Homo sapiens: one gene and its partner. The protein of the gene in region 1 purifies or fractionates together with the protein of each later gene. This does not show direct contact. Each region holds a gene or a part of one and is shown on either strand. Other genes may lie near its edges. The genes, in order: PARD3 and DCAF7.

What was found.
Region 2: the proteins of PARD3 (region 1) and DCAF7 purify together in Homo sapiens (affinity purification with mass spectrometry; 2 studies listed by BioGRID and IntAct, with this or other methods). This does not show direct contact.

Annotation. Positions count from the first base shown.
Region 1 is NC_000010.11:34,353,843-34,369,578, forward strand, and holds part of PARD3 (partitioning defective 3 homolog), read right to left. Parts: intron 6,418-15,736; coding exon 6,229-6,417; intron 5,476-6,228; coding exon 5,305-5,475; intron 1-5,304. UniProt on the Homo sapiens protein: Adapter protein involved in asymmetrical cell division and cell polarization processes. Seems to play a central role in the formation of epithelial tight junctions. Targets the phosphatase PTEN to cell junctions.
Region 2 is NC_000017.11:63,584,244-63,599,269, reverse strand, and holds the end of DCAF7 (DDB1- and CUL4-associated factor 7), read right to left. Parts: intron 14,060-15,026; coding exon 13,942-14,059; intron 10,271-13,941; coding exon 10,098-10,270; 3' UTR 5,004-10,097; downstream 1-5,003. UniProt on the Homo sapiens protein: Involved in craniofacial development. Acts upstream of the EDN1 pathway and is required for formation of the upper jaw equivalent, the palatoquadrate. The activity required for EDN1 pathway function differs between the first and second arches.

The DNA of each region.
Region 1 (15,736 bases):
ATGGAAAAGAATGCAGGGACTCAGTTTTTCTCTAAAAAAGTGAAATCATCCTTTAAGGGCTTTAAACAATGGGAAGCCATCTCTTTTTCTTTGAAGAAAGAAAAAAGAAAACAAACAATGATGGTTTATACAATGTTTTTAAGTGTAGTTAGATAAAACCATTAGATCTAAGAAAAGAAGGAAAGCAAAGGAAATAAAAATTACTGCCCTCAAAATCACTTTGTTTGCCTTGTCTGAGGGTGACTCTGGAATTTCAGTTTCTAATACTAACAAGACCTGTCTTTCTTCAAAAAAAAAAAACAAAAAAAAAACGCCAGATGGTAGCAGGCACTTGCAGTCCCTGGCTAACACGGTGAAACTCCATCTCTACTAAAAAATACAAAAAATTAGCTGGGCGTGGTGGTGGGCACCTGTAGTCCCAGCTACTTGGGAGGCTGAGGCAGGAGAATGGCGTGAACCCGGGAGGCGGAGCTTGCAGTGAGCTGAGATCACGCCACTGCACTCCAGCCTGAGCAACACAGCGAGACTCTGTCTCAAAAAAAAAAAAAAGCCAGACTCTCCAGGGTTGCTCTTCGTCATTCAGCCTGTGCTGATGTGTCAGGCCTGGGTTGGATACCAGCAAAGGATACACAGGAAAGTGGTAGATGGACCAAGCCCTGGCAGTCTCAGAATCCACATTCCAGCAAAAGAAAATCAAAGAGGAAACCATGATAGTGTGACAGCTGCTGGGTGAAGGGGAGTACACGGGGCTATGAAAATCCTTTGGAAGAGAAAATGGAAAATGAAAGACTGCGTTAAGTCTTTGCTAGGATGAGGGGCAGATAGACTCAAGTGGAAGACCTAGAGGTGTAAAAGAGCATCCCATGTCTGAGAAATTACCAGAAACACTGAGTGGCTAGAGCAGAGGTGCTGCAGGGGCTGTAGGGCACCGATGACAATCAGGCATGTCCCAGTGGTCCCCATGATGGAGACTGGTTGATCCTGGAGACATGGAAAGCCTCTGAAGGGATTTCAGCAGGGACTGACGTGATTAATGTGTTCTGTAGAAAAATTTGCCTGACTGCAGTGCAGAGAATGGATTGAGGGAGAAAGCCTGATTGCAGAGAAAACCCTCAGGGAGCTGCAGCAGTGCGCCTGGTGAGAGGATGAGGTCTGAACTCAGGCAGTGGGAGAGGGGAAAGAGGGGAGCGGCTAAAGGAAGAGAGATTCTAGGCCAGGCGCAGTGGCTCACAGGCGTAATTCCAGCACTTTAGGAAGCTGAGGCCAAAGGATTACTTGAGCCCAGGAGTTTAAAACCAACCTGGGCAACATAGTGAGATCCCATCTTTAAAGAAAAATTAGTTGGGTGTGGTGGTGCATGCCTGTGGTCCCAGCTACTAGGGAGACAGGTGGCAGGATTGCTTGAGCATGGGAAGTCGAGGCTACAGTGAGCCGGGGACTATACCACTGCACTCTAGCCTAGGCAACAGAGCGAGAGAGCAAGACGCTGTCTCCAAAAAAGAAAAGAGGGAAATTCTAGAGGTAGAAGCAACAGGCAACAGGGATAGGGACAGCATTTGAGAGGTCAAGGGTGACCCCAGATCTCTGCCTTCTACAACAGAAAGAATGTGGTGCCTTGTGAATTAGGTGCCCATAAGACATACCAGGAAATATTTCCCTAGGCAGGTGGACAGAGGGATCTGGTGCCAGAGTGGACCTGTGAGCTGGAAAGAGGATGATAGTATTCATCCTAACAAGTGGTTTCAGGCAGCAAGGGAGTGGAGATCAGCTAGGGAGCAAGAGCAGAGTAAAAACAAACAGACCTGGTGGGGCGCAGTGGCTCACGCCTGTAATTCCAGCACTTTGGGAGGCCAATGTGGGCAGATCACAAGGTCAGGAGTTTGAGACCAGCCTGACCAACATGGTGAAACCCCATCTCTACCAAAAATACAAAAAATTAGCTGGGCATGGCGCACACCTGTAATCTCAGCTACTCACGAGGCTGAGGCTGGAGAATCACTTGAACCCGGGAGGCGGAGGTTGCAGTGAGCCAAGATCACGCCACTGCACTCCAGCCTAGGCAACAGAGTGACACTCCGTCTCAAAAAAAAAAAAAAAAAAAAAACAAAACAAAACCAAACAAAAAAACAGACAACAGACCCAGAGGAACTTTGAGAGACAGGAATAATGAAAGAACAGGCAGAAAAGAGGAACCCTTAGAGAAGACCCGGAGTAGGGTAGCAGAAAACTAGAGAGAGTACATAGGAGACACTTTGAGAATGACATAGTGCCTGCAGATTCCTGGAAGGCTAAGCAAAATAGGCTAAGAAATAGCTCCCAGAGAATGTCTCCAATGTGCCCTGTCGCGACTAATGTTAGGGAAATACAGGGCTTTAACATAATACCTAGTGAAGGGAGCTGACAAATAAATTTAAAGAAAACACATTGGACCAGGTGAGGTGGCTCATGCCTGAAATCTCAGCACTTTGGCAAGCTGAGGCCAGGAGTTGGAGAACAGCCTGGACAACATAGCAAGACCGTGTCTCTACAAAAATGAAAAATAAAGAAGACATATTAAGATAATACACAGCACTTCCATGTATAAGAGAAAGAAAAATGTGACAAAGAACAAAAGATTTTCTTTTACACATTCTTACCTTCCCTAACTAGAAATTAAATATGCAAACCTTGGATTTAAAGATGAGATAGCAAAATACAGTTTTCTGATTGGCAAAGACTGGACTATACAGCTGATTAAAAGACCTAGAAAGAAAACTCAGCACATTATTTTGGCTTGAGATTTGTTCAGGACAGCAGGATGCCCTGTGCTTATATCAATATTTACTATAACATAATTTACACATACCCTCCCAGTGTGCAAAGGAGAAGGTTTTCCTAAGGTAATGCATAAGTACAACAGCTGAAAAATCATGTCTTATACCTTACTGGAAGCTGAATTGAGATCTTCTGTCTTCATGTAATTCTTTAGTTAAACCCTATCAGTACAAAAGGGTTCTTGCTAGTATTACAAAGATAGCACAGCACTCATAAGATTTTTTGATATAATTGCTTTATAAGCTTATGCTGTCCTAAGAAATAGTAATAACCAGCAATGTATGAAAATGATACCATAAGGAATATTGAATATTAAAGTCTATTACTGTCTACTGCAGCTGTTTCCTTACTTAAATCATATTCATTCACAAAAATTCATATGGAGAAGTGAATAAAACACAGAGATATTTCAGGGGGATTCCAATTTCACATCTCTTACAGGGAATAAAATCAGTGCTTTTATCAAAACATTTTCAGGCAGGTACAGGTTTACTTTGTCACTATTTGGGGGGAACAATAGGGAATAATCTGAATCAGATAAAAGCAGAACACTGATCTTCAGTTCATTTCTGCATTTTAAGTCCTCCTGTAGCATTCAATGTTTTCTGTGAAGGAAAACATTGAGAAGGTGTTAAAAATTTTAATTGGTCTCTAAAAGACTAAGGTGATACGTTGTCCAGTAGAATGCATGCCATCTGTCTTATTCACTGCTATGTCCTCAGGATCTAACACATTTTCTGATACACATAAGATGCTCAATAAATATCTGTGGAATGAAAACTGTCCTGTGTAATGGGAAAGTATTCAGGTGGCCAAAATAAAAAGGCCTAAAAGAGAATGATATGTTTTGTAAACTTACAGTTGAGATGTTTTCATATAGTGCTTTGTGGGACTTAAGTTAAAAGATCAGCTAATGATTTTGCAATGAGTAAAAACTACTATTCAATCAGTCCAGGAGGGACGGAAAAGAGAAAAAAATATCAGTCCAGCATCCTACTGTGAGGGATTAGCTTTTATATTTATCTTACATAAATGAATGTTTGTATGTCCCACTCTTCTCCACTCTGAGATTTTTTAGTTAAGGTTATGTTGTTCTCTTGATATCGCAATTAATTTGTTGATTACTGTTAACTCATTCTACATTTGGCAAATAAAAACAACAAAATAATTCAGTGGTCAGTGATCTTTCAGAATACGTCACCTCTATATTGACTACCAACTGAGCTCGAGAGTATATTTTCTCTGTAAAATATGCTTGTATCATAGGTTCAGATGAGTGGTCACTGCAACCTGAAAACGGTGCTTTATGTGTTTATTAAACAGAAGTTTAAAAATTAAGAAAAACTCTTAAACAACTTAGGTATAATTTTCAGTTTGTATTATTTGCTAATCATTTTATCTTAGTTGATTTGATCTTAAAATGTGGGAATCTGAACATTGATTTAAGAAAAACTTCACATTTTCAACAGCTCATTTTGCACATGGGCAAGTCTGACCTATTTTCTACAGTTGGCACATAATTTATAATGGATCCATGAAATTTAGCTTTTTTCAAGCTCCAATATTATCAAGGCAACATATAATTTATTTTTAACTTTCAAATGTCCTATTATACAACAAAGTATGTTTTTCCATATTTGGGAAAATAGATGATCCTACCTTTCAAGAGAGGATGCCCTGTGTCCTCCTCACCCCTAATTCCAAACTGCAACATACATTTAGAACAAGCAGAGTATAATACAATACAGATCACTGAAAAAGGAGGCATTCTAAGAGAACAGACTCAATCCCATAGAGAAAGAGAAAATGGGGACTGAGGAAAGAGAGGGAGGTATATGCTATTGATAATCTCACAAGAGAACACCATCATCTAAGAAAGCCAGACTGTGGGCCAGGTGCTATGGCGCGTGCCTGTAATCCCAGGACTTTGGCAGACTGAGGCAGGAGAATCCCTTGAGCCCAGAAGATGGAGGCTGCAGCGAGCTGTGACCACAACACTGAACTCCAGCATGGTCAACACAGTGAGATCCTGTCTCAAATAAAAAAGAAAGGACAGGGAAGGAAAGACTGTTCCCTACTAGGGGCTTTGTAAGAGGCATCCCATTTTAAATAAATGAATAAGCAACTGTTTCTCTGCATGATTCACCTCCCAGGTATAACTCTGCCAACTAGAAGAGAAACTGTTGGCTCTGAGAAGGAAGATGTGACCCTGATTTCAAGAAAAAATTCAGCTAAAGGGGCTTTTGAGATCCCAGTGTTTCCTGCTGAGTTGGCAATAGGAGTATTAATGTCCACTTAGGAATATGTTGATCACAAGAATTAAGAACACAAACCACAATCCACCTACAAAATAATAAAACTACAATAAGCAAAGATAATTTATGGTCTTTTGATGTAAGGTCCTGGAACCTAATACCCTTTGCCCAAAATTAGGACAGAAATGTAGTTTATTTACAATTTTAGATACTAGCACTTTTTTGCATTTCTTACCTCATTGCACTTGCTTATTCTCCTTGCAACAATAAGCTGGATCATTCCTCGTTTATTGCCTTCAGTAGACATAGACCTTCTTAGGGTTTCCATGGCATCTTGGTTTGTCTTGCCCAACAGGGATTCTCCATTTACTGCTATCAGTTGATCATTCACCCGAAGCCTTCCATCCTGGGAAGAAAACAGGTAAAAATAAGTGCTATTAAACAGACTGCTATAAAAGAAGTAGCTTTTCCTTTAGTTAATAAATAAAATAAAAACAAAGCAAAAAAAAAAAAAGTGGGGAGCTTTAATCCTAATGGATTATGCCCAATTGAACGCTGGCATAATAACGTCTAAGCAGCTATTGTAGCCTGTGTCTATTTCAATCATTTATACATTTGTAAATCAAGTCATTATCATAATCTGTTTACCAAAATAGCATACTAATTCAAAGGACACAAAGTGATTACTTTCTTGCTTCCAGAAACACCCATAGAGGTTATTTAGAAACCAAGACATGTAAAAGCTCAAGGCTATTAGACAGTTGCAGAGAACTGTCCCCTTAACAAATGGCCAGGAAATTTTCTCTAGGCTGAGAAATAGAGTAAGTGACCCACAAACAGGGGAGGGGAGGGGAAAGATTAACGTCTACTATACGCCCATTCTGTGACAGGACCTATGCCAAGTCTTTGCATTGATTAACTTCATTTAACTAGCATGTCAATGGGTTGTATGTTCTGTGAGAGAAAAAATGAAAGGTTGAAGTTATGGACTCCATCCCCACGTGACACATCACTGATACACCTAGTTGTTTAAATGTGAATGTGGGTACCATAAAGAAATGAGAAAACTTCTGTTAACTGTATATGTTTCCAAAATAGGAACAGGGTTGAAATTAAAATTTTTGTTAATAGGCATACGCATGATAAAGTTGACACTCACTTTAGATGCTGCTCCTCCATTAATAATGGACTTGACAAAGATTCCCAAATCTGCGTGGTTCTCTTTTGACCGGTTACCTTTGACACTGACACCAAGGCCTGCAGATCCTGAATCATTAAGTGGGACTTCAAATGTCAGAAATTCCCTGGTGCCATCAGGTGTAAGAACAATATCCTCATCTTCTGCTTTCTAATAGGGAACAAAATTGCACAGCACATTATAGTCCAATGTTTCTTTCTCAAAGTTATTTTTAAAGACTGCTAATGAGCAGTTCCTTAATCATAAGAGGCAAAATATTTCCATGAAGGTTCCACAGCAAGATCCATGAAAACACTACATCTGCACCCACTCCAGAAGATTCTTGGAACCAGCTGTTAATATTTTTATGTAGCAATTATTCAATATTGAACCAAACTTAAATCAGATTTGAGAAAGATAGAGGGAAAATGTAGTGGAAGGACTAAAGACTAGTAGATTTCTAGAGTTCGGGATTTTTTTGGTGTAATCATATATTCTAAACGACAAGAAAAACAGTAACAATGGGAGTAAAAATAAATAAATATAATTCATTTATCTCCCTTTTTATGAGGAAATTCTGAAGTTATCAATATATTTAATGTTCACTAATGGTGTTTATTCACAAAAAATAACAAATCCTGATCATACAAAATCAGCAGAAAAAGGTATATGGGTTCAGAGAGCCTCTAAAGAATTCTAACATCAACATCTGTGAGACAAAGTAGAGATATACAACATCACAGAAAACTTTTCCACAATATTGTAGCATACATAATATAGCTGGTAAATATTATTCAGGTAATCTTGTTTAATTAGTTAAGATTTAACTTCATAGTCACCAAGCATAGAAGGAAGACTTTTTAAAATAAAAAACATTTAGGATATACAAATTATTGTTCACCTCCCTTAAAACAGAGGAAGAAATGAAAGCTTAATGTAGAACTGAATAAAATGCATTAAGATGACAGCCTATCATTAAGAAAGCCTACACTCCAGAAGAGGAAGCACTCAGCCTTCTGAGCTCCTCCTCCTCAGCAATCCCGCCCATGACCAAGATTTCCACCATCTCTATACTGGTCATGTCCAAATCAGTAAGGCTAGGATGCTTGTTCAAGCACAAACTCTTGCTCCAACCACATAACAGACACGTGGCACAGGCTCTTCAAGTAAAAACTGAATGGCACATCTAGTCCTACAACCTATTTCTCCTCCTCTTTTCCCACGTTTGAAATATTTCTCCAGCATCTGTTTAGTCATTCAAGCTTGACTTATCAAATTATAATTGAAGAATAAGAAATACAGTGGTACACAGATATGTAGGAATATATACTTTAAACAGATTGTGCTTTTACAGAATGTTCAATAACACAAAAAAAGTAGGTGACTGCATCCTACCAAATTTTTAAAATGTCCTAATAAGAATAAAAATCAACCCAAGGAATTTGGAATTCAAGGAAATTTGGAATGCAAGGAATTTGGGGCATAAACATGCAATCTCAGATGTCTCAATTAGATAAAATACATTTTGAGAGTACACTATCTGTAAGTGAATTTTTTAGATCATCATAAAATAAGCAATATGCTATTTATAAATCTTTAGACCCATAGTAATGTGATGTTTCTAATTTACAAATATGTAAAGTTAACATTTTATGGTAGGACATCTTTGTGCTATCTCAAAGGATGGCCTGATAGTTTTTAAAGACAAGTAACACTTCAATTACAATAAACTTGCTAATGGGTTAAAAAAAAAATTAAAACTTATATAATGAAGAACTCAAAATAAGAATCTGAAAAAATACAGAGTAATAGTCATGTTAACTATGCAAAGTAAATACATTTATGATCAAAGTCCAAATAAAGCCTTAAGCCTGCTCATCATAAAAACTAGATTTAAAATATTCCCAGGCTGGGCGTGGTGGCTCACGCCCATAATCCCAGCACTTTGGGAGGCCGACGCAGGTGGATCACGAGGTCGAAGCAGGTGGATCACGAGGTCAGGAGATCGAGACCATCCTAGCTAACATGGTGAAACCCCATCTCTACTAAAAATACAAAAAATTAGCCAGGCGTGGTGGCGGGCACCTGTAGTCCCAGCTACTTGGGAGGCTGAGGCAGGAGAATGGCGTGAACCTAGGAGGTGGACCTTGCAGTGAGTGGAGACCATGCCACTGCACTCCAGCCTGGGCGACAGAGCAAGACTCTGTCCCATAACAAAAAATAAAATAAAATAAAATATTCCCAGAGAACAATTTTAGCTCAAATAAAACCAATGTATTGTGGGCAAAAAAAGATCAAATATATCAAATACTTTGATACAAAAGTATCTTTATATACATGCTTTGCTCTATAAACATGAATATTCAATATACTTTTTATTTTGGTCCATGTAGCTCAAAACAAGTGTTTTTGTTGTTTGTTTTTTTGAGACAGTCTCACTCTGTCACCCAAGGTGGAATGCGGTGGTACAATCACTACTCACTACACCTTTGACCTCCCCAGGCTCAGGTGATCCTCCCACTGCAGCCTCCAGAGTAGCTGGGACTACAGGAACATGTCAACAAACCGGGCAAATTTTTGTATTTCTTTAGAGATGGGGTTTCACCATGTTGGCCAGGCTGGTTTCAGACTCCTGGGCTCAAGCAATCCACGCACTTTGGCTTCCCAAAGTATTGGGCTTACGTGCCCAGCCCCTTGAAACATTTACAGAGTACGAAATAATGACTATGTGTGAATGAACTGCACTACCTCAATATAAAATCTGTTACAAGAATATAAAGTACGGTAAATTTTGATGTTTAAAATACAAAACAACATCAATACACATCATAGTTCCCCTTGACTTTAAATTTGGAGGTTGCTGAAATAAAAAATTATTCTGTCAATCAGTACTTATAAGCATGGAAAAGCTACATTTGAAAAAATGGAAAACAAGAATATTCTTTCTATGGACACACCTAAGTCTCATCACTCACTATGCTTACTTGCTTCAACTCTGGAAGGTTCTTAATTGTTACTTTCTGATTTGAATCTTCAGTTGCCTTTTCAGTGTTTACTGAGTTTTACATTTCCATAACATTTTACCAAGGCTTACAATTCTCATATTTTTCCTACTTGAAAGATCAGGATAAGGAGCTGGCTGCATATATGAAGAAAAATTTTAATCAAGTTGCAATATTTTCTGATTGCTGAACTCTGAACCTGTTTTAAAGAAGAGCATATTCTCCAGGGGATAGTTTATTTATTATAACAACTGCAGAATGGGAATAATCTTTTTCAGCTTTCTTACCAAGTCTTAAGTCATTATTATCATTAAGAACACTGATGTGAAACATTGTATGTTTCATGTGATATTCCACTATTAATCCATTTGGCTTTTGACATAGACAGAAATTAATGCCAGCTTTTAGAACTTAGTTCTCTGGCAGAAAAATGTTTTTTAAAAATTGTGCTCTTCAAAAATCATTTGAAATGCTATATTACTGAGAATGTTCATAAAGTCAGATAGTATAGGAATCTCCATATTCTGATGTAAAATAGAAACTAACTTTCTATCACCTTGCTATTCCATCCAAATTCTGCACCTTATCAACTGTTTCTCGAATTAAGATCTTTCTACAGAAACGCAAAAAATGTCTTTTCTTTAACTCACTCCTCATGTCATCTGGGCACAGTCATGTCACTCAAGCACACCTGCCTCACGCACATACATGTGTGTATACCTCAAGTGATTGTTTTCAGCAACAAAGCCTGTCAGTTCTTCCTTTGCCCATTTCTCCATTACCATTTGTTGTCTTTAAATGCCCAGAATAAAAGGGCACCTTTGCTAAGGAACCTGCTGAATGGGTATTGTGAAAGCTACTTACTATCCCACCCTCCAGAGAACAGCAGAAAAGATGTACATTTCTATCTGCAGTGAGACAAAGAGTCACAAGTGGGCACCATCATGGCCCCCTTTTCCTTCTTCCCGAAATCACAGTCCAAAAAACTGAGAATAGAGCTGGCCTATAGGCCCAAATCCACAGTTAATCTGCAGCAAAGGTGTTATCTATAAAAAAGGAAATAAGAGTTGATTGTGTCAAGCAGCAGAAAAACAATCATGGGAAGGGTAATCTCTGAGCCGCAACAAACGAAAATTTGGATGAGAATGTACAAAATATTGTGAAGAGAGGCAAAAGAAACATGGAATGTGCACAAATGATAGAAGACCATAAAATTATAGGAGTGAGCTCAATAGCCGATTTTTGGCTTTGTAACAAAATACGTGACTCAGCAAAAGTTTCATCACTCCACTATAAATCATTAATTTCTCTCTCTCAAGATCTGCCCTTATCTACAGAATTATCTTTTTTTTTTTTAAAGACAGGGTCTTGCTCTGTCATCCAGGCTGGAGTGCAGTGGCATGATCATAGCTCTCCATAACCTTGAACTCCTGGACTCAAGTGATTATCCCGCCCTCAGCCTCCCAAGTAGCTAGCTGGGACCCCAGGCACACCACCAAGCCTGACTAACTTTTTCTCTTTTTTGTAGAGACAGGGTCTTGATATGTTGCCCATGCTGGTCTCAAACTCCTGGGCTCAAGCAATCCTCCCACCTTGGCCTCCCAATATGCTGGGATTATAGGCAAGAGCCACCATGCCCAGCTGAGTTATTAGCAAATAGCTAGTAAATTAATGCAAAAATCCCTAGTAAATTAATAACAAAAAGATAAGCAGTCTGCATCAAACAGGAAAAGGATGTAAACAAGCCATTCACTAAAGAAAGATGAGCAAACCAATAAATCAACCTCCAAGTACAAGGTTCAATCTTACTCGCAAATCAATCAAAGGTTATCAAATTGCTCCATATATTTTCTTCAAATTAATGATATCCAACAAATACTGCTTTGCCATAGAACACTAAAAAATAAATAAAAATAATGATATTTAATACTGGTGTGGTGAAATGCGCATGTTCTTGCACTGCTGGTGAATGTAAAAAAATGGTACAATATTTATGGAAACCAATTTGACAATGCTTACCTAAACCTTCTACAGTTTGCCATTTTCTTAAGCTAGAAATATTACTTTTAGTGATATGGCCTACAAAAATAGTTGTGATCATGTACCAAGTTTTAACTGTGAGGATATTGTTTTAATTACAATAGCTAAAAATTGACATGTATGAAAGTCAGGAAAATTAAGATCTATCTACACAATGGAATGCCATTCAGCTAATAAAGTGTCTTAGCAAAATAATATGTAAGACAAGAAAGTATTTGTGACTAAGAAATTGAGTTTTACCCTTTGGACTTCCATAACTTCCAGTACACCCATCAAAAACCTCCATAACATATTTTTATGAATTAATGTCTGCCTTCAAAGATCACTAGAAGCTTCACAAGGTAGGAATTTATGTCAGTCTTCACTCGTGCCTGGGGCATGACATTTATTAACAATAATAGGATATGTGGCTGGGACATGATACATATTAGTTAAATAGGTAGACAAGAACATCTTTTTACTTATTTATTTTTTCTGAGATGGAGTCTCGCTCTGTTGCCCAGGCTGAAGTGCAGTGGTATGATCTCAACTCACTGCAATCTCGCTTCCTGGGTTCAAGCAATTGTCCTGCCTCAGCCTCCCAAGCAGTTGGGACTAAAGGCGTGAGCCACTACACCTGGCTAATTTTTATGTTTTTAGTAGAGACAGGGTTTCGCCATGTTGGTCAGGCTGGTCTGAAACTCCTGACCTCAGGTGACCCGCCCACCTTGGCCTCCCAAAGTGCTGGGATGACAGGCATGAGCCACCAAGCCAGAACAAGAAAATCATTTAAAAAAATACATTATCTTTGGCTAGGCTCACAGACACAAATATATATATGAAAAAATACATTAAAATGATGATACTGAAGTCACAGAATTACAAGTGATTTTAATTTTCTTCTACACATGACTGAATTTTCTACAGTTGATATGCATTATTTTTACAATACAAAAAATCCATTGTATACCACTTCTTTAATTCTGCTTCCTCAAAAAAACACTGCATGGGGGAGGAGAAATTGATAGAGGGTTATACAGATGGTCCACAACTTACAATGTTTCGACTTAATGATTTTTCCACTTTTGATGGTGCCCATGAAACCATTCTGTTGTTCACTTTCAGTACGGTATCCCATAAATTAGATAAGATATTCAACACTTTATTGTAAAATAACTTTGTGTTAATTATTTTGCCCAACTGAAGGCTAAGGTAAACCTTCTGAGCACATGAGGTAGGGTAGGCTGGGTTACAGCGTTGTAGGTTAGGTGTATAAATGCATTTTCATCATAACAATATTTTCAACATAGAGTGGGTTTACTGACAAATTTATGGGGAAGTAACCCCATCATAAATTGAGGGGCACCTGGATATGATGGGCAGGGGCTGTTGCTTGGGACAAAGATGGGCTATGAATGAGCACCTTAGGACAGCTCTAAAAAAAACCATGCCATGACAGCAGACCATCATAGCGTCACGCAGAATAGAAATTTTCATAGACATTAAAGAGAGAATATACTTATTCAACAAACAGAGATTAAATAATATGCAGGTAGGTATCTGAGACAATATGAACAACCATTTATATTTTTAACTAAGAGAAAGATTTTTTAAATGGAGAAATTATCATGGTTTTAAAATTTTTCTTAAATTTTTCTTAAATTTAAGAACCATGATAAACCTCTTAATAAAAGAATAACCCTCCAAAGAGACTCCAAAATTTCCTTAAGTTCCCCATTTTAATTTATCCCGTATGTGAGATGAACATTTCTGTATGTTATTTGTGTTGATATTATAAAGTTCATTATTCTTATCAGTAAAGTTCAAATGTCATATCTGGCTTTATAATGCCTTTTCTAATTCGAATGGTAGATGCCAAATACATTTTGAAAGACTTTTAAATTTTTTGCTTGGTAAAATAATGCTGAGGAAAAAATGTTTTGCACAATTATTAATCTCTAATGTTAACTCCCAAAATACTCACCCAATCAAAGAAACATCAGACAAACTCAAATTGAGGGACATTCTCAAAGTAATCTGCCCCTTCAAAAATTAAAAATTTGCCTGGAGTAATTTGTTCTTGAGAAAATATTAACAAACGTAATAGGTTAAAGGAGATTAAAGAGCCATGAGAACTTACTGCCATACATGATCCTGAATTGGAAACAGGACCAAATTCTATTCATACTTGTATTTCATTCATTCTCTCATTCATTTATGATATAAAGAACATTAATTGGGACAACTGATAATACAATCGATTTAATCATTTTCGTAACTATAACACAGTTATATAAGAAAATGTCCTCCTTCTGGCCAGGCGCAGTGGCTCACGCCTGTAATCCCGGCACTTTGGGAGGCAGAGGCGGGCAGATCACGAGGTCAAGAGATCAAGACCATCCTGGCCAACATGGTGAAACCCCGTCTCTACTAAAAATACAAAAATTAGCTGTGTGTGTTGGCACGTGCCTGTAATCCCAGCTACTCGGGAGGCTAAGGCAGGAGAATTGCTTGAGCCTGGGCGAGAAGGTTGCAGTGAGCCGAGATCGAGCCACTGCACTCCAGCCTGGGCAACAGAGTGAGACTTGGTCACACACACACATACACACACACAAACAATATGGCAGCCTACACTTGATCTATTAAGTGTTAGCAAAATAAACCTAATAAGGCCCATGCTTAATTTCTAGCTCATTAAATTTCTAACTTGAGACTCTAACCTTTCTGAAGTTAGCCTATCAAGATGGCTTCTGACCTTCAAAAAAGTTCCTAAAGAATCCCCAATGTATCCCTGTGGTTTCTGTAGGGAAAGCCCACTAACTTTCTAGAATGCATTTTGAATTCTTGAAAGTTAAGCATGTGGCTGGGCGCAGTGGCTCAAACCTGTAGTCTCAGCACTTTGGAAGGCCATGGTGGGTGGATTGCTGAAGGTCAGCTCGAGACCAGCCTGGCCAACATGGCGAAACCCCGTTCTACTAAAAATACAAACAATTAGCCAGGCTTGGTGGCGCATGCCTGTAATTGCAACTACTCAAAAGGCTGAGAAAAAGAATCGCTTGAACCCAGGAGGCGGAGGCTCCAGTGAGCCGACATCAGTGAACTTTGTTAATAAAGCAAGACAAATGCATTCTACAAATAAAAACGAACAAAGACAAATATGATAAAGAACTACAAAATGGGAGAGAACACTAGTTCCGGTTAGGGTAAGCCTCATGAGATAGGTAGAAGTCAGTAGGATTAGAAGTTGGCGTCCGTATGGACAGGCAAAGAAGGTGAGAGCAGGCCGGGCGCGGTGGCTCACGCGTGTAATTCCAGCACTTTGGGAGGCCGAGGCAGGTGGATCATGAGGTCAGGAGATTGAGACCATCCTGGCTAACACGGTGAAACCCTGTCTCTACTAAAAATACAAAAAATTAGCCAGGCATGGTGGCGGGCACCTGTAGTCCCAGCTACTCAGGAGGCTGAGGCAGGAGAATAGTGTGAACCCGGGGGGTGGAGCTTGCAGTGAGCCAAGATCGCACCATTGCACTCCAGCCTGGAAGACAGAGCGAGACTCCATCTCAAACAAAAAAAAAGAAGAAGGTGGGAGCAGCCCAAGTCAGGAGAAAGTATTTGCAAAACTGGTCACTGGGCTGGGAAAGGACAGAAGTGTCCATGCAGTAGTTAATGGAAATCAATGGTACTAAACGCGTGTTCTAGGAAAGCCTATGTATCAATCCATGAGCAATGTAAAAAAAAAAAAAAAAAAAAAATCAACAAGATCTCTTCCCACTATCTTGACTAATGAGATGGCATCTAACCCTGGATTTCTTTATTACTTGTTTATTTAAAAAAAATTCAGTCATAGTTTATCAGCCTCCAACATGGAACTCATACTGTATTACCTGAAACTATATATGTAGCTTAGCTTTTTTTTTTCCCCCCTCAACATACTAAGTCACATTAAGGAGAAATAAAATCTGCCCTGCAGATTCTGGTGTCAGACAACCTGAGTTTATGGCTGGCTCCAAGATTTGGAGTGTCCTAAGGTTAATTCTTTGTTCCTCCCCTTTCAATAGGATAATATCACCAACTAAGTCAAGCTTGTCCAACCTGAGATCTGTGGGCCGCATGTGGTCCAGGATGGCTTTGAATGTGGCCCAACACAAATTCCTACCTAAGCTTTCTGAAAACATTATGAGATTTTTGTGATTTATTTATTTATTTGTTTATTTATTTATTTATTTATTTATTTATTTATTGGCTTATCTGCTATCGTTAGTGTTAGTGTATTTTATGTGTGGCCCAAGACAATTCTTCTTCCAGTGTGGCCCAGGGAAGCCAAGATATTGGACGTGCCTGAACTAAGTCATGGACATTGTAAAGATTAAATAAGATAATCCACATAAAGAGTTTCACACAATAACTGATGAATAAATGCCAGTCATAGATAGGACTGCAACGTTATAAGCAATGTTAAGCATTAGAGG
Region 2 (15,026 bases), on another chromosome or scaffold:
TATAGAATATTCAGAGCTGTGCACAATTGATTTTACATTTTCATCATCCCCAAAAGAAGTCCTGTACCCATTAGCAATCATTCCCTATTTCCCCCCAATTCCCACAGCCCTAGGCAATCACCAATTTACTTCTGTCTCTGTGGGTTTGCCTCTTCTGGACATTTAATATGAATGGGCCCACACACTATGTGGCCTTTGGTAACTGGCTTCTTTCACTTAGCATGATGTTTTCAGGATTCTTGCATGTTGTAGCATGTATCAGTATTTCATTTCTATTGCCAAATAATATTCCATTGTATGAATATACCACGTTTTATTTATCTGTTCATCAGGCAATGGACATGTGGTTGTTTCCACCTTCTATGATGAATAATGAGGCTGTGAACATTCATGTACACATTGCTGTGTGGACCTATGTTTTCACTTCTTTTAGTTATATACCTAGGAGTGGAATTGCTGGGTCATATCATAACTATGTTTAACCTTTTGTGGGATTGCCAGACTGTCTTCTAAAGTGGTTGTATCATTTTACATTCCCACCAGCAATATATGAGGGTTTAATTTCTCCATATCATGAATTTTTTTTTTTTTTTTTTGCTTTGTTACCCAGGCTAGAGTCCAGTGGAGCAATCATAGCTGACTGCAGCATAGAACTCCTGGGCTCAAGTGATCTTCCCATCTCAGTCTCCCAAGTAGATGAGATTACAGGTGTGAGCCACTGGCTAAATTTGTTATTCTTTTTGACTATAGTTATCACCATCCTTGTGGGTGAGAAGTATTATCTCATTGTGGTTTTGATTGTATTTCCTGAATGACTACTAATGGTAAGCATCTTTTCATGTGCTTATCAGCCATTCATATATAGTATTACTTTTTGCAATTTAAAAATAGTTTATTCAGGCCAGGCATGGTGGCTCACACCTGTAATCCCAGCACTTTGGAAGGCCGATTTGGGGCAGATAATGAGGTCAGGAGATCGAGACCATCTTGGCTAACACGGTGAAACCCCGTCTCTACTAATAATACAAAAAATTAGCTAGGTGTGGTGGCACGCGCCTGTAGTCCCAGCTACTCAGGAGGCTGAGGCAGGAGAATCGCTTGAACCCAGGAGGCGGAGGTTGCAGTGAGCCGAGATCGCGCCACTGCACTTGAGCCTTGGTGACAGAGCGAGACTCCATCTCAAAAAAAAAGAAAAAAATATATATGTAATATTTACTTTGAGAAGCAAAAATCAAATTAATGGAATTTGTAATCACAAATAAGTGTAGAGGCTAAAACAAGGTTTGAGACTGCCCTAGTCCAGTCAGCCTGAGACCAGCAAGGGAAACCTATAGTCTCACAGAGTTAGGCTTATCAACTCACTGCAACAAGGGAGACTGCACACCAGAGGAATGGTGAAGTGTCTTACCGAAGAAAAAACTGGTCATAGAATTATGGGGAAGGGTGGAAGTTAGGTGAAAAATTAGAGTTAGGCTCAAAGAAACACAGACCTGTGTGAAAGGCGGATTAAGATCAGCTGGACTACCAAGTGGACCCAGGGGATCAGTTTCCCTGGAAAGTACAAAGTCAAGGTAAATGTGGACTGTTGTGTTCAGAAGCCCCTGCTCTGAAGCACAATACCTGGCCTGGAAATCAAGGCTGCTTCTCTGTCAGAGTGACTCAGCTCCTCCAAGCAAGACTGACTATAAGCCTTAATTCTCACAAATACAATTGCAAACAGCAAACTTTGTCAGCCTATGATTTTGGAGAACGAAATTTCTCAGTGAATTTTTTTAAAACAGTAGTCACTCAGGGAGTTTTGACACTTTATGTTGCCAAAAAAAGAAAAAAAAATTGCAGTGTGTTCTTGATAGAGGTACTATATCCTGTTAACTGTGCAGCTGGTTTTATCTGTCTGTGCATCTGTGATGAATGGCAGGGCAGATTTTAACTCTCAGTCTGAGTTAATAGCCACCTTTCAAGATAAATTCATAGTTGACTGAACCATCTCTAGACGCCTGGCTGTCAGGCTCACTGAAATCACTTAAGTAACAATGAGCCTTGGAAGCTAAAGACTGGCTACAAATATCATTCCATTAGGTTTGACCATGTGTTGTCCAGTACTAACAGCTCTCAATGAATGAGATTACATTAGTTATTAGTCCAGATACTTAGCCGATTTGCTAGTATGGCTGAGACATAATTATTCACTACTTCACTTCCTTTTCCAGGGTACACAGGAAGACTACATTTCTTGACTTGACCTTCCTTGCAGTTGGCAGATAGGAGCAAAAGTGAGTAAGCCACTTCCCGGCCCATCCTGAAAAATGTACTCCCTCCCACCCCCCATAAGCAACCTGGAGGTCACACGTTTATTTTTATTTTTTGAGATGGAGTCTTGCTCTGTTGCCCAGGCTGAAGTGCAGTGGTGCGATCTTGGCTCACTGCAACCTCCACCTCCCGGGTTCAAGCTATTCTCCTGCCTCAGCTTCCCAAGTAGCTGGGACAACAGGCGTGTGCCACCATGCCTAGCTAATTTTTGTATTTTTAGTAGAGATAGGGTTTCACCATGTTGGCCAGGCTGGTCTCGAACTCCTGACCTCAAGCTATCTGCCCCTCCCTCCCCCCTCAGCCTTCCAAAGTGCTGGGATTAGAGAGTTGAGCCACTGCACCCGGCCCAGAGGACTTTGTGTAAGCAAAAAATAAGCTTTTGTAGTGCTCAGTTTCTGAGATTTGGGGGTTTGTTGCCGCAGCATAGGCTAGCCTATAAATAGTATTACTCTCTGTTTTCTCCTTAAAAACCAGAGAGCAGGACTCATGTGTTTCTCACAAAATATACATTGTCAGACCATATAGCAGCACAGTTCCAAAGGACCAGCAGGTACTCATAAAACTTAAATTCTCTGCCAGGCACGGTGGCTCACGCCTGTAATCCCAGCACTTTGGGAGGCCGAGGTGGGTGGATCATCTGAGGTCGGGAGTTTGAGACCAGCCTGACCAACATGATGAAACCCCATCTCTACTAAAAATATAAAATTAGCCAGGCGTGGTGGCACATGCCTGTAGTCCCAGCTACTCAGGAGGCTGAGACAAGAGAATCGCTTGAACCCGGGAGACGGAGGTTGCGATGAGCCGAGATCGCGCCATTGCACTCCAGCCTGGGCAACAAGAGCGAAATTCTGTCTGAAAAAAAAAAAAAATTAAATTCTCAAGAGCACATACTTCCCTTCACAGATCCACTGCCACCGGCTCCATATCAGCTGACACAATGGCAGGTACTTACCGAATACAGGTTCACGGAACCAATCAGTTTGCCTTTCTTCTCTTCCTTCACAGTGGCCCAACATGAAGAATAAAAATATAAATAAATGGGGGTAGTATTTCATCCAGGACACACAGCATTTGAAGAGCAGTGGGATAGGAACTCCCCCACCCTACCGTGTGGGGCATAGGTTTGGGAAATTAGCAGGGACTTGGACATTCCTAGTCAGCCATCAGAACCTGTCCAAATCCAAAAGATCTGGGAGTTATTTCTCTGTCCTCCTTCACAATCAATAAATTACTAAATGCTGATGACTGCATCCCTCTTTACTTGTGCCCTGTCCTCTCCATCCTTGCCGTGGCTGCTGCTGCCGCCGCCGCCTTAGTTCAGGGTTTTTCTCTCACCCTATAAGAAGGAAGAGGCACTTTTTCATTGCCTATCCTTCTAAAATGCAATTCTGATGACTCCTCTCTGTGTATGTTTTCCAGGATCATACAGAAGTGTAATGTCTAAAATTTCTGCAAAGCGGGAGACTTTCCCTGCCCTGGCTCCTGTATACATCTCTAGCTACATTTCCCACTATTCACCCCACCTCAACCTGCAATTCTCTAAATATGACCATACTTTCTTGCCTCCATAGATTTGCACATGGGTGTTCTCTCTGCCTTAAAGGACATTCCCTATTTCCAGATAACTCCTACTCAGCCTTCAAAACCCAGCTTAGGCATCCATCTTAAGTAGTTTTCGCTGACCCCATGTGGCTCCCACACAGGCAGAGGTGATCACCTCCTCCTGAGGGGTGATGCCTAAACACATCCATTATCGCACAACAATGCAAGTTATTTGGTTTTTTTGTTTTTTGTCTTTTAAAAATTTGGGTGGGAGGGGGTAGGGATAAAAGACTACCAATTGGGTACAGTGTACACTGCTCCGGTGATGGGTGCACCAAAATCTCAGAAATCATCATTAAAAAAACTTATTATCCACATAACCAAAAACCACTTGTTCCCCCAAAACTATTAAAATAAAATAAATGCCAGGTGCGGTGGCTCACACCTGTAATCCCAACACTTTGGGAAGCTGAGGCAGGCGTATCACAAGGTCAGGAGTTCGAGACCAACCTGACCAACACGGTGAAACCCCGTCTTTACTAACAATACAAAAATCAGTCGGGTGTTGTGGCACATGCCTGTAATCTCAGCTACTCAGGAGGCTGAGGCAGGAGAATAGCTTGAACCGGGAGGTGGAGGTTGCAGTGAGCCGAGATCGCGCCATTGCACTCCAGCCTGGGTGACAGAGCGAGACCCCGTCTCAAAAAAAGAAAAAAGAAATGCAAAAAAAAAGATTTGTCTTAGATCTTAGTCTGGCTAAAAGAAATTTTTTTTTTTTTTAATAAAAATGACTGATTGATTGAGACAGGGTCTTGCTATGTTGCCAAGGCTGGTCTTGAACTCCTGGCCTCAAGTGATCCTCCCACCTCAGCCACCCCCATGCCTCAGCTGGGATCACAGACCACTGTGCCCGGCCACAAGTATTTATGTAGATGTCTCCTCTGGTAGACTGCAACCAACTTGAGGGCCATGTCCCCTGGCATAGAGGAGGTGCTCCACTGAATTAACAAGTGAATGACTAAATAGGATATAAAAGGTGATGAGTAGACTGCCCGGCTCGGGCTGGGGCACTGCCACTGTCTATGGAACATGACCAAAGTGACAAAATGGGAAGAACTGAATTCGTCACAAAAAGAAATTCAGTCAATCTATACATGTTCAAGTTTTATTACAAAGTATGATGGGCAGAAAATACGGTACTTCTTATACAGGAGGCTGAAACAGAATGAAAGGGTGAAAATTAGGTTTAATTTACTTAGGAAACAAGAAATAGAAAGTCATAGCTATAACACTCCACTTTCAGGTGCCCATGAAGTAGCCTTCAATGGAGATTCCCCATAGTTGTTTCACAGCACAGTGTTAAAATTTTATTACAAGCCCTGTGTACAATCAGTCCTGTGAAAATATTTATAAAAGAAAAATATTACAGTACAGTTCTGCAAGGGGCAGCTTCCTCTACACCTGACCGTGGATGCCACAAAACCTATAATATAGAGGGAAAGTTTAAATATATAACAAGAATGGAAGTTCAGACATACTAGGCTAAAGGACACAGAAATGGATCAGTTAGAGCTTAACATTTCAGAGCAAGAAATCTCCATTTTCTACATAGAGGTTTATACAATCATGCTACAAATTCACTCTGGGTGGGGTGGGGAAGGAAGGTCACTGACAAGAGGGGTAGTAAAATACACAGGAACCAAAGCAAGTGAGTCAGACTCAACTAAATCGATTCAAAGCTTCAGCTCAACAATTTTCATAACACATGGTATACCACAATCAACCCAAGGTGAGAACATTTCTTTTAAATAGTAGATATCACATGTTCATAATCACTGGGTTGTCCCAAAGGTGGGTGCCTATAAACTTTCCAGCTGTTACATAGACTGTCAACATCTTTCTTCTTGAGTTTAAACTTTCTTTAGCTTATTTGTTTCTCGTTGGATATACCAGTCCAAGCCTCTTTGGGAAGGCACCTGCATGTTTCCATATTTTAAAAATGACATCCAGAAAGTAGCCTGAGAGGACCTGGCCCATCCCATGTGGCCACACATTTGACTTTGACCATTAGCAGCAGTGACACTGTGAGAGGGGGAGAAGGTGCAGGTGGGTGAAGTGGGCAAGGGTCTGCAACACGAGACGCTCTCAGGAGCTGGCCCAGCCAGGGCCTGGCCCAGGGTTCACAGTGACTTTGCTCTGCTCCGCCCTCTTCCCTGGGAAAACCAATCTAAGTATCAAGCATGATCTTCCTTCTTCGTCCTGGAGTACACACAGTAAAGGGAAAAGTCTGCTTTGAGGCTTCTACTTCAATGGTCTCCCCTACCCCAAGCCAGGAATGAAAGGGGCTGCCATATTCTCAAAGTGGGGAAGGCAGAGGGACAGTACTGGGCTGCCCTCCCACGTGTGGTAAACCCTGCAGCTGCTACATGTCTTCACAGCCCAGGAATTCAAGGCCCAGGTGGCAGCAGGAAGAAACAGTGGAAAAGCAAGGGGAAGAGAAAAGAGAAAAAGGAGGGGGAAAGTCTGCATAACTGTCATAACCTCTGCTTCTCCTGCTCTGTAACAAACCCACAACCAGGAAGAGTCATGGTCTGGAACAATCATGGGACCCCAAACGCCTGTAGGTTTTTTACCACCAAACATCACCCATGGCTGCTCTAAGCTGTCATTTTGTTCCCACAGTTACCTAGCATCACGGATGCCCAATTTATGGCCCAGGAAGGCTGACCCAGGCTAAGGGCAGTCTCACTCCACAGCCATGCAATGGACAGTCTGAATGTTTCCCTACCCCAGACCTTCACTGACCTCTACTATTTCCTCCTCTGATATAAAGAAAACACTTTAATTTTCTCCTGCATCCTACATCTCCTCCTAAAATTTTGGCCCTAATTGTCATCAAAACCTTGTAGGATTCTGAATTTTTTGTTTCTTCCTGAATCTTAGCCAGTTCTCTCAGAGCCAATCCTGGATTTATAAGGAATTTTCACCTATTTTTTTTTTTTTTTTATTTTTTGAGACGGAGTCTTGCTCTGTCGCCCAGGCTGGAGTGCAGTGGCACGATCTTGGCTCACTGCAAGCTCCACCTCCCAGGTTCACGCCATTCTCCTGCCTCAGCCTCCCAAGTAGCTAGGACTACAGGTACCCGCCACCACCCCCGGCTAATTTTTTTTTGTATTTTTAGTAGAGATGGGGTTTCACCATGTTAGCCAGGATGGTCTCGATCTTCTGACCTTGGGATCTGGCCACCTCAGCCTCCCAAAATGCTGGGATTACAGGTGTGAGCCACCACACCCATCCTCGCCCAGTTATTAAATACCTTCCCTCTTCAAGTCCTAACCTTGCAGGCTAATTCCTCCCTGGAAGAAGAGGATTCCAATGCTCCTGAGCATAAAAAATTCAGGTCCTTGAATGACGTGGACCCATTCTCCAGCTCTCTGGTGGTAGAGGCCTGAGGCCTAATTTATTCAGCACCTCCATCCTTCAGTCAGAACAGATGAGGACAATACAGGCAGCTGTGCCTCAGGCTGCCAGGAGCAAAAGGGCCATCACCAGCTGGGCCACAGCCTGGCGGAGCCTCCATGTGGGCTTCCTGCTAAAGTCCTAGTGGCTGCTCCTCCCGCAGTCAGGGAGAACAGATCCAGGGCCTCCCACCCAGTCTCGCTGGCTGTCAGTTTGAGAACCTCAACAAATTACAGAGTTGTTTTTGCAACTACAACAGATCGGTGCTTTCTGGAGCATGGATGGCTTACAGACTTTCTAAATCCTGAGACTGTAGAAATCCCCTCCTCAGTCATGGGTCGTCGGGCTGGTGGAGTAAAGGGAGGGTAAGAGAGCTGGGACTCAAAGACCAGCAACTCATCAACTGTGAGTATGTGTGTGCTTGCTTAGGGGGGTGGAGTCCCCCTGGGTCCCCGGTGGCATTCAGGGGAAGACTGTACTGCAGGACCTAAGGAAGGATGACAGGAGCTGGGCGTCCACAGGGCAAGGGAAATCTCAAAAGTTGTTGGTTTCCAGAGTAAATAGCTATCTTATGCAAATATGTTCTAATTATTATTTTTTTTTCAAGTTGTTGTTTCTGAGTTCCAGCTGACAAATTCCACCATACAGACCAGGCGTAGGTGCAGATCAGGAAAGGAATCTTAGAACTCAGTGGATGTAAGCCCTGCCCAGCAGACCAGCCCCTTCTACCACTGACTTCCATTTCAGACCCTTCTCCACAGGAAGGAACTGATGGCCTCCTAAACAAGCAGCCATCAGCTTGGCCTTGCTACCCTTGAGAGAAGGACCCAGTAACCATTATCAAACACAATGAAAAGCAGAGGAGGGTTCTGACCAAGAACTGCTCGCTTTGTATCTCCAAACGATGCAGTGCAAATCCAGTGGCAAATGCAGGAGAGGCAACCACAAGCACATGGCCAGCCAGAGTCCTAAAATCAGAACAACAAAGTAAAAGGGTAGAAGGGGAAATATGCTGGCTAAAAAAAGAGCCTTTTTCTTTGGGACAGGTCCCTGTATGGTAAAGCAAAGAGCTAGACTTTTGGCATATAATGACATCTACTTCTGAAAAGGAAGACTTAACCAAAAAAGCTTAAGGGCCCAGAAGAACAAAGTTACTGTTTTACTTCTCAAGCAGGTGAGAACCAAAGAGGACAAAACCATCATCCTTCAGGCCTGCTACTCTACTAATCTCAGATGAGCAATTCAGAGGGACTTAAAAACCTTCGGGTAGGAGCAGAGCGCAAGGAAACAGCCAACTTTCCCCCAAGAGCACATCCCAAACTGCCTGCCCCAAGGGCTCATCTAACGGTGGAATCACACATATGCCCCTCCATGGAACTCATTCACATAACAGAAAGACACCTGCGGCCTGCAAGTCAAAAGACAACTGCAGGCTACAAGTCCAATACTGCTCAGAACCTAAACTGGGGGAGAGAGGGGTTGACAGGTGTGGGTAGAGCTCTTAACTGGCTGACCCTGGGGGTCTATAATTCCTTTTCCTTCTTTTTTTTTCCTCCCTTTTCATTACCCACAGTATAATGCTTTTTAACTATCTATCCACTTGACAGCCCAGGATTGCCGCAGTCCATCAGTCCATCTCTCATGTAAGGTCTTGTTCAGGGTTGGAAGCACAGACAGGATGCCTCGGGAAGACTCTCTCACCTCAGAACACTCAATCCAAAGAATGCCCAATATACCACCAGGCACAGTAAACTCAAACAACAGAAGCACCGAAGTTCAACTCAGATATCATTCTTGCCTATCATTGAAAAGACACTAAGTGGAATGGCCTGGGGCTTATATTTGGATGGAAAAACAGACTCTGAAAGAATGTACTGGAAATATGCTTGAAGTTCAGCTTCATGAAACGATTCCCCTCAAGTCAGGTACCCTGAGAGCCTGTTTCTCTCAGCTCTACCATGCTGCCAGTGGGAACCAATGGGCTGGACAGTGGTGCTTCAGGGTAAACAGAGGCTTCCTATGTCTGTTTACAAGCCCAGAATGCCCTTGAGAGGAGCCAGGCTAAGAAAGGTGTGATGAGTCAGTGGACTTCAGAGCACCAAGGTGGTTTGGACTCCCGGTCAGGTATGTACTACACAGGCAGTGACTCAAGAAGGCAAACTGCTCATGGGGCCAGGGGCCCAGTACCAGCTCCAGGCACTGAGGGAAGAGAAGAAGGTGCAAAGAGGGAGGACTATAAGACAAAGAAATGAAGCAGGAGAGTAAAATTCTTTTCATAAAAAAATTAGCCTGATAGATAACAAATATACAAAGTTAAAATTTGTTAAACACACTGATACTAGGAGAAAAGACAAATTGGTATTTGTTCCCACGTAAGTGCTAACACGAACATGGACATGGACGAGACATGAACTGCTGCCTTGGGCAGCAAACAGAGACACCTGGGCAGAGGAATAGACACAGCCAGTGCGTGAACTGCTCCTCAACACAACGCCTGACAAACAAATATACACACATTTTTTAATTGAGGAACCAAAGGAGAAGAGGAAAGGAGAGAAAATCTTAAAACTCAGCCCTGGGCTGAGGAGGCGCCACACAGCACTGAGTCTGCCACAGAGGGCGATGGGGTGACTGGCCAGGAACTCCTAGAGCAGCTTCTGGTAACAGTGGGTGCAAAGCAATGAAAGACATACTGGCCACTGGAAACATGTTTCTTCTTACTTTGGGGGTGGGGCAGAGGCAGGAAATACAAAAGCCCCTGCCTCGTGGGCACAGCGCCACCAACACTACACTCTGAGTATCTCCAGGCAGTTGTTGTAGCAGATGGCGATCCAGTCGGGCTGAGTTGATGCCCACTGCACATTGTTGATCTCTCCTTCAGCTGTGTAGGCCAGGATAGGGTCCTCAATGGCTCGGGGCATTTGCTGGATGTCCCAGATGAGAGCCTGGTGGTCATCCGCTAGGGACAAAGAAAGCCAGCAAGCAAGGTCACAAGTGAGGCAATGCGGATGATGATCCCTGCATTTCAGGAGCAAGTCACAGTTTACAAAGCACCCCCGTGATGGCGGTTCTATTTTAAGCCCCCATTTTATCGATGAGGAAATCGAGATTCAGAAATGTTAAGGCACTTGTTCCAAATCACACAGCTATTCAGCCAAGTGAGTGGCAGAGCCAGAACTCAAATCTAGGCCCTGACTCCATCTCCCAGATGTCCCCAGGCTCTATCCACTGCACTAATGAGTCCTTCTCATCTGGGTCAGGTATCAGGAGTGGACAAGGGGATACCAAACATGTCATTTGCAGCCACTTAAAATACTTGAGTGGTTACAAAGATCATTCTCTGATCATTCAATATAATGAGAGCGTTTCTTCCCTGTTTGATGGACATTTATGCTTCAGTGAGGTGTTATATAGAAGACTGATAAAGTAGTGCTGATATGTGCTGTTAAAAAATTCTTTCCTGGCCAGGCATGGTGGCTCACACCTGTAATCCCAACACTTTGGAAGGCTGAGGCAGGCGGATCACCTGAGGTCAGGAGTTCAAGACCAGCCTGGACAACATGGTGAAACCCCATCTCTACTAAAAAAAAAAAAAAAATACAAATTAGCCAGGTGTGGTGGCACACACCTGTAATCCCAGCTACTTCGGTGGCTGAGGCAGGAGAATCGCTTTAACTCGGGAGGCAGAGGTTGCAGTGAGCCGAGATCATACCACCGCACTCCAGCATGGGTGACAGAGTGAGACTTCATCTCAAAAAAAAAAAAAAAATCCAAGAAAATAGCTATGGGAAACACCAGAAAGATGGTAATCACTTTAAATATATAAAAGCACATGAAAAATAAGTAGAAGGAAATATATTAAAATGAGAATGATGGCAATACTAAGATGGCAAGGTTAGGATTTATGTTTACTTTTCTCTAGTTCCTAAGTGATTCGTAATGTGCTCATATTACTTTTTTTTTTTTTTTTTTTTAAATGGAGTCTCATTCTGTTGCCCAGGCTTGAGTGCAATGGTGCAATCTCGGCTCACTGCAACCAAAGCCTCCCAGGTTCAAGCGATTCTCCTGCCTCGGCCTCCCAAAATGCTGGGATTACAGGCATGAACCACCGCACCTGGCCTATATTACTTTTATAATCAAAATAGTAAGTTAATTTTTAAAAAAGAAAAAAATAAGGCAATGGCCTTCAGAGCTGCAGTGTACCCTGACTCTGCCATGCATTCTGATGAAAGCTGGTCTCAGATACAAAGAAAATCTGAATAAACTAAACCCTAATAGACTAATTGTGGGCAATACTAGTCTCCTGCCAAGGCCGCATAGTCTGGGCCAGGTGCAAGATCCCTCTCCCAGGGACAATCAATGCCAAGAGGTCAGGGAATTGCACCTCTAGAGCACTAAGGCCCTTTTCCTCAATGCTCAACCGAGCACACTTGAGCAACAGCTCCTTCGGTTGAAGGGGCTCAAGGCAGGTGCAACACACAAAACAACAGCGAGCCAGACAAAGGCAGCAGCCAGGAGCAGAAAATGGGGCTTCTACGGGGCCAGTCCTGCTTTCCATGAATAATGGATGACACCTTTCTTTTCTGCTTCTTCTATCCCTCCCTATCCACACCCCTGGGAAAAAAAAAAAAAGAGGGCAATAATGAAGAAGACAGACCACAATCTGAGGTACAGAAGGCAGCAGCAGGCCCCCAGCTGCTCTTCAAGGAGACATACAGGCATGAGCAGAGGGCCAAAATCAGGAAAAGCTTCATGCCTTCCAAATAATGCTCAAATGGCAGAAAAACACCAGAGTACATTGCTTCTTGGGCTCCATAACAAACCTTGTCCATTATAAGGCTCCTGATTAGTGAGGAGAAGAAAAAAAACACACTAAAAAAGTTAAGGAGCAAAACATCACAGGACTAGGACAGAATCCTATCAGTGCAAAAGGAAGAAGTATATAGTTGTATTTGGGGGCATAGATGTACATCCCTGAAAGTATACCAAAAGGGTCTGGAAGGAGACACATTACCTGTTGATAGAGGTCATCTATGCAGAGGGGGATGGAGGCAGAAATGATATAGGAAGGAGAAAAGATGACTTTCGCCTTGCTCTTAAATATGCTTCTGTACTGTTTTCAATTTAAATAACAGATTGGCATTATTTCTACAATAAAAGTGCATTGACAACCAGCATATTTTTCTTTTTTTTTTTTTGAGACGGGGTCTCACTCTGTCACCAGGCTGGAGGGTAGTGGCACGATCTCAGCTCACTGCAACCTCCACCTCCCAGGTTCAAGCGATTCTCCTGCCTCAGCCTCCCGAGTAGCTGGGACTACAGGCATGTGCCACCACGCCCAGCTAATTTTTGTATTTAGTAGAGACAGGGTTTCACCATGTTGGCCAGGATGGTCTTGATCTCCTGACCTCGTGATCCACCTGCCTCGGCCTCCCAAAGTGCTGGTATTACAGATGTGAGCCACTGCACCCAGCCTTTCTTTTCTTTTTTTAAAATTTATTTTAGAGGCAGGGTCTTGCTTGGTTGCCCAGGCTGGAGTACAGTGGCACAATCACAGCTCACTGTAACCTCAAACTCCTGGGCTCAAGGGATCCTCTCACCTCAGCCTCTAAGTAGCTGGGACTACAGGAATTCACCACCACACCCAGATAGTCTTTTTTTAACTTTCTGTAGAGATGAGGTCTCACTATACTGCCCAGGCTGGTCTTGAACTCTTGGCCTCAAGCAATCCTCCCACTTTAGCCTCCCAAAGTGCTGCAATTACAGGCCTGAAACACTGTGCCTGGCCCAACATATTTTTAAGGGGTACTTTTTTTTTTTTTTTTTTTTTTTTGGAGACAGAGTCTTGCTCTGTTGCCCTGGCTGGAGGGCAGTGGCATAATCTCTGGTCAATGCAACCTCCACCTCCTGGGTTGAAGTGCTTCTCCTGCCTCAGCCTCCTAAGTAGCTTGGACTACAGGTGCGTGCCACCATGCCTGGCTAATTTTTTTTGTATTTTTAGTAGAGACAGGGTTTCACCATGTTTGTCAGGCTGGTCACGAACTCCTGACCTCAGGTGATCCACCCGCCTCAGCCTCCCAAAGTGCTGGGATTACAGGCGTGAACCACTGCACCCAGCCCGTAAGGGGTGCTAGCTTTGGTCTGGGAAACAGTGAAATGAAAACCACAAGTCACAAACCACAACCAGGCAAAGTTCTGTGGGGCCCTCCGATGCATCCAGAGCACACTGTGGGTTTGTTATAGTGAAACCTGAAAGGTCCCATGGAGATGTTGATCTTCACAGTCCCAAAGATTCTGTTATATCCATGAGGGATGCCTCCCTTTCCCCATATTCCTGGAATTGAGTCCTCTGTGCCATCCAGATTTCAGGGGCACAGTACAAGGCACAGCCCTATAACTGACACATGATGTAAATCATATATGGAAGATGTTCTGATGTCCATGAGGGTACAAGATCGTCTAAAAATTTGTACTGATTGAATTTCACAAGTGTGGAGAGGCTCCAACTAGTCATTTTGTATAAATCTCTCAAGACTGTGCTTAGAAAACAGTAACAACTACAATTCTAAGGAGCCAAGAGAACAGATTTCCTCCATCCTTCCCAGATTTCTTTCTCCCCACCATGATTACCTGCAGTGCAGATGTGGCAGGATGAATGTGGGGCCCAAGCAATGCCATTGACACATGCTCGATGGTTGTTTAACCTGGCGACAGGTGTGCAGGGAACCCGGACATCTAGAATCACCACCTGCGGAAATAACAAGTAAAAGGCCTGGGATCATCAGAGTTTCATAGAAAAAAACAAAAAATACTATCCACATGCAAAAATCTTTTTAGGCATAATTTTTCATTTGTGGATTTAAAGAACTAGAGACAGGATTTCCATAGGATTGAGGGAAAAGAAGACAAAGGACACGGGTAGTTGATAGTCTCTATCTTGAGCAACACTGGGCCTTTAGACTGATAGGGGAGATGCAGAAACAGACAACAGGAGTCTGGGTAATCCTGGGTCCCAGCAGGTGCATGTGGTAAGAATTCTATGCATCTCAGATGAATGGAATGAGAGCCCAGCCAAAGCAGAATCTGAGGTGCTAGCGCCACCAAACCAAGGACAACCAATGCATTCTCCCCACCCACAATTCACCTCTTTAATCAAGTAACAGACTAGAGAGAGCTGCCATTTGTTTTTCTTTTTTTTTGAGACAGAGCATGCCCTGTCACCAGGCTGGAGTGCAGTGGCATGATCTCCGCTCACTGCAAGCTCCGCTTCCCAGGTTCAAGCTATTCTCCTGCCTCAGCCTCCCGAGTAGCTGGGACTACAGGTGCCTGACACCACGCCCGGCTAATTTTTTGTATTTTTTTAGCAGAGACGGGGTTTCACCGTGTTAGCTAGGATGGTCTTGATCTCCTGACCTGTGATCCGCCCACCTTGGCCTCCCAAAGTGCTGGGATTACAGGTGTGAGCCACCGTGCCTGGCCTTTTTTTTTTTTCAGATGGAGTCTTGCTCTATCTCCCAGGCTTGAGTGCAATGGCACGATCTTGGCTCACTGCAACCTCTGCCTACCAGGTTCAAACAATTCTCTTGCCTCAGCCTCCCGAATAGCTGGAACTACAGGCGTATGCCACCACACCCAGCTAATTTTTGTATTTTTAGTAGAGACGAGGTTTCGCCATGTTGGCCAGGATGGTCTCCATCTCTTGACCTCGTGATCCA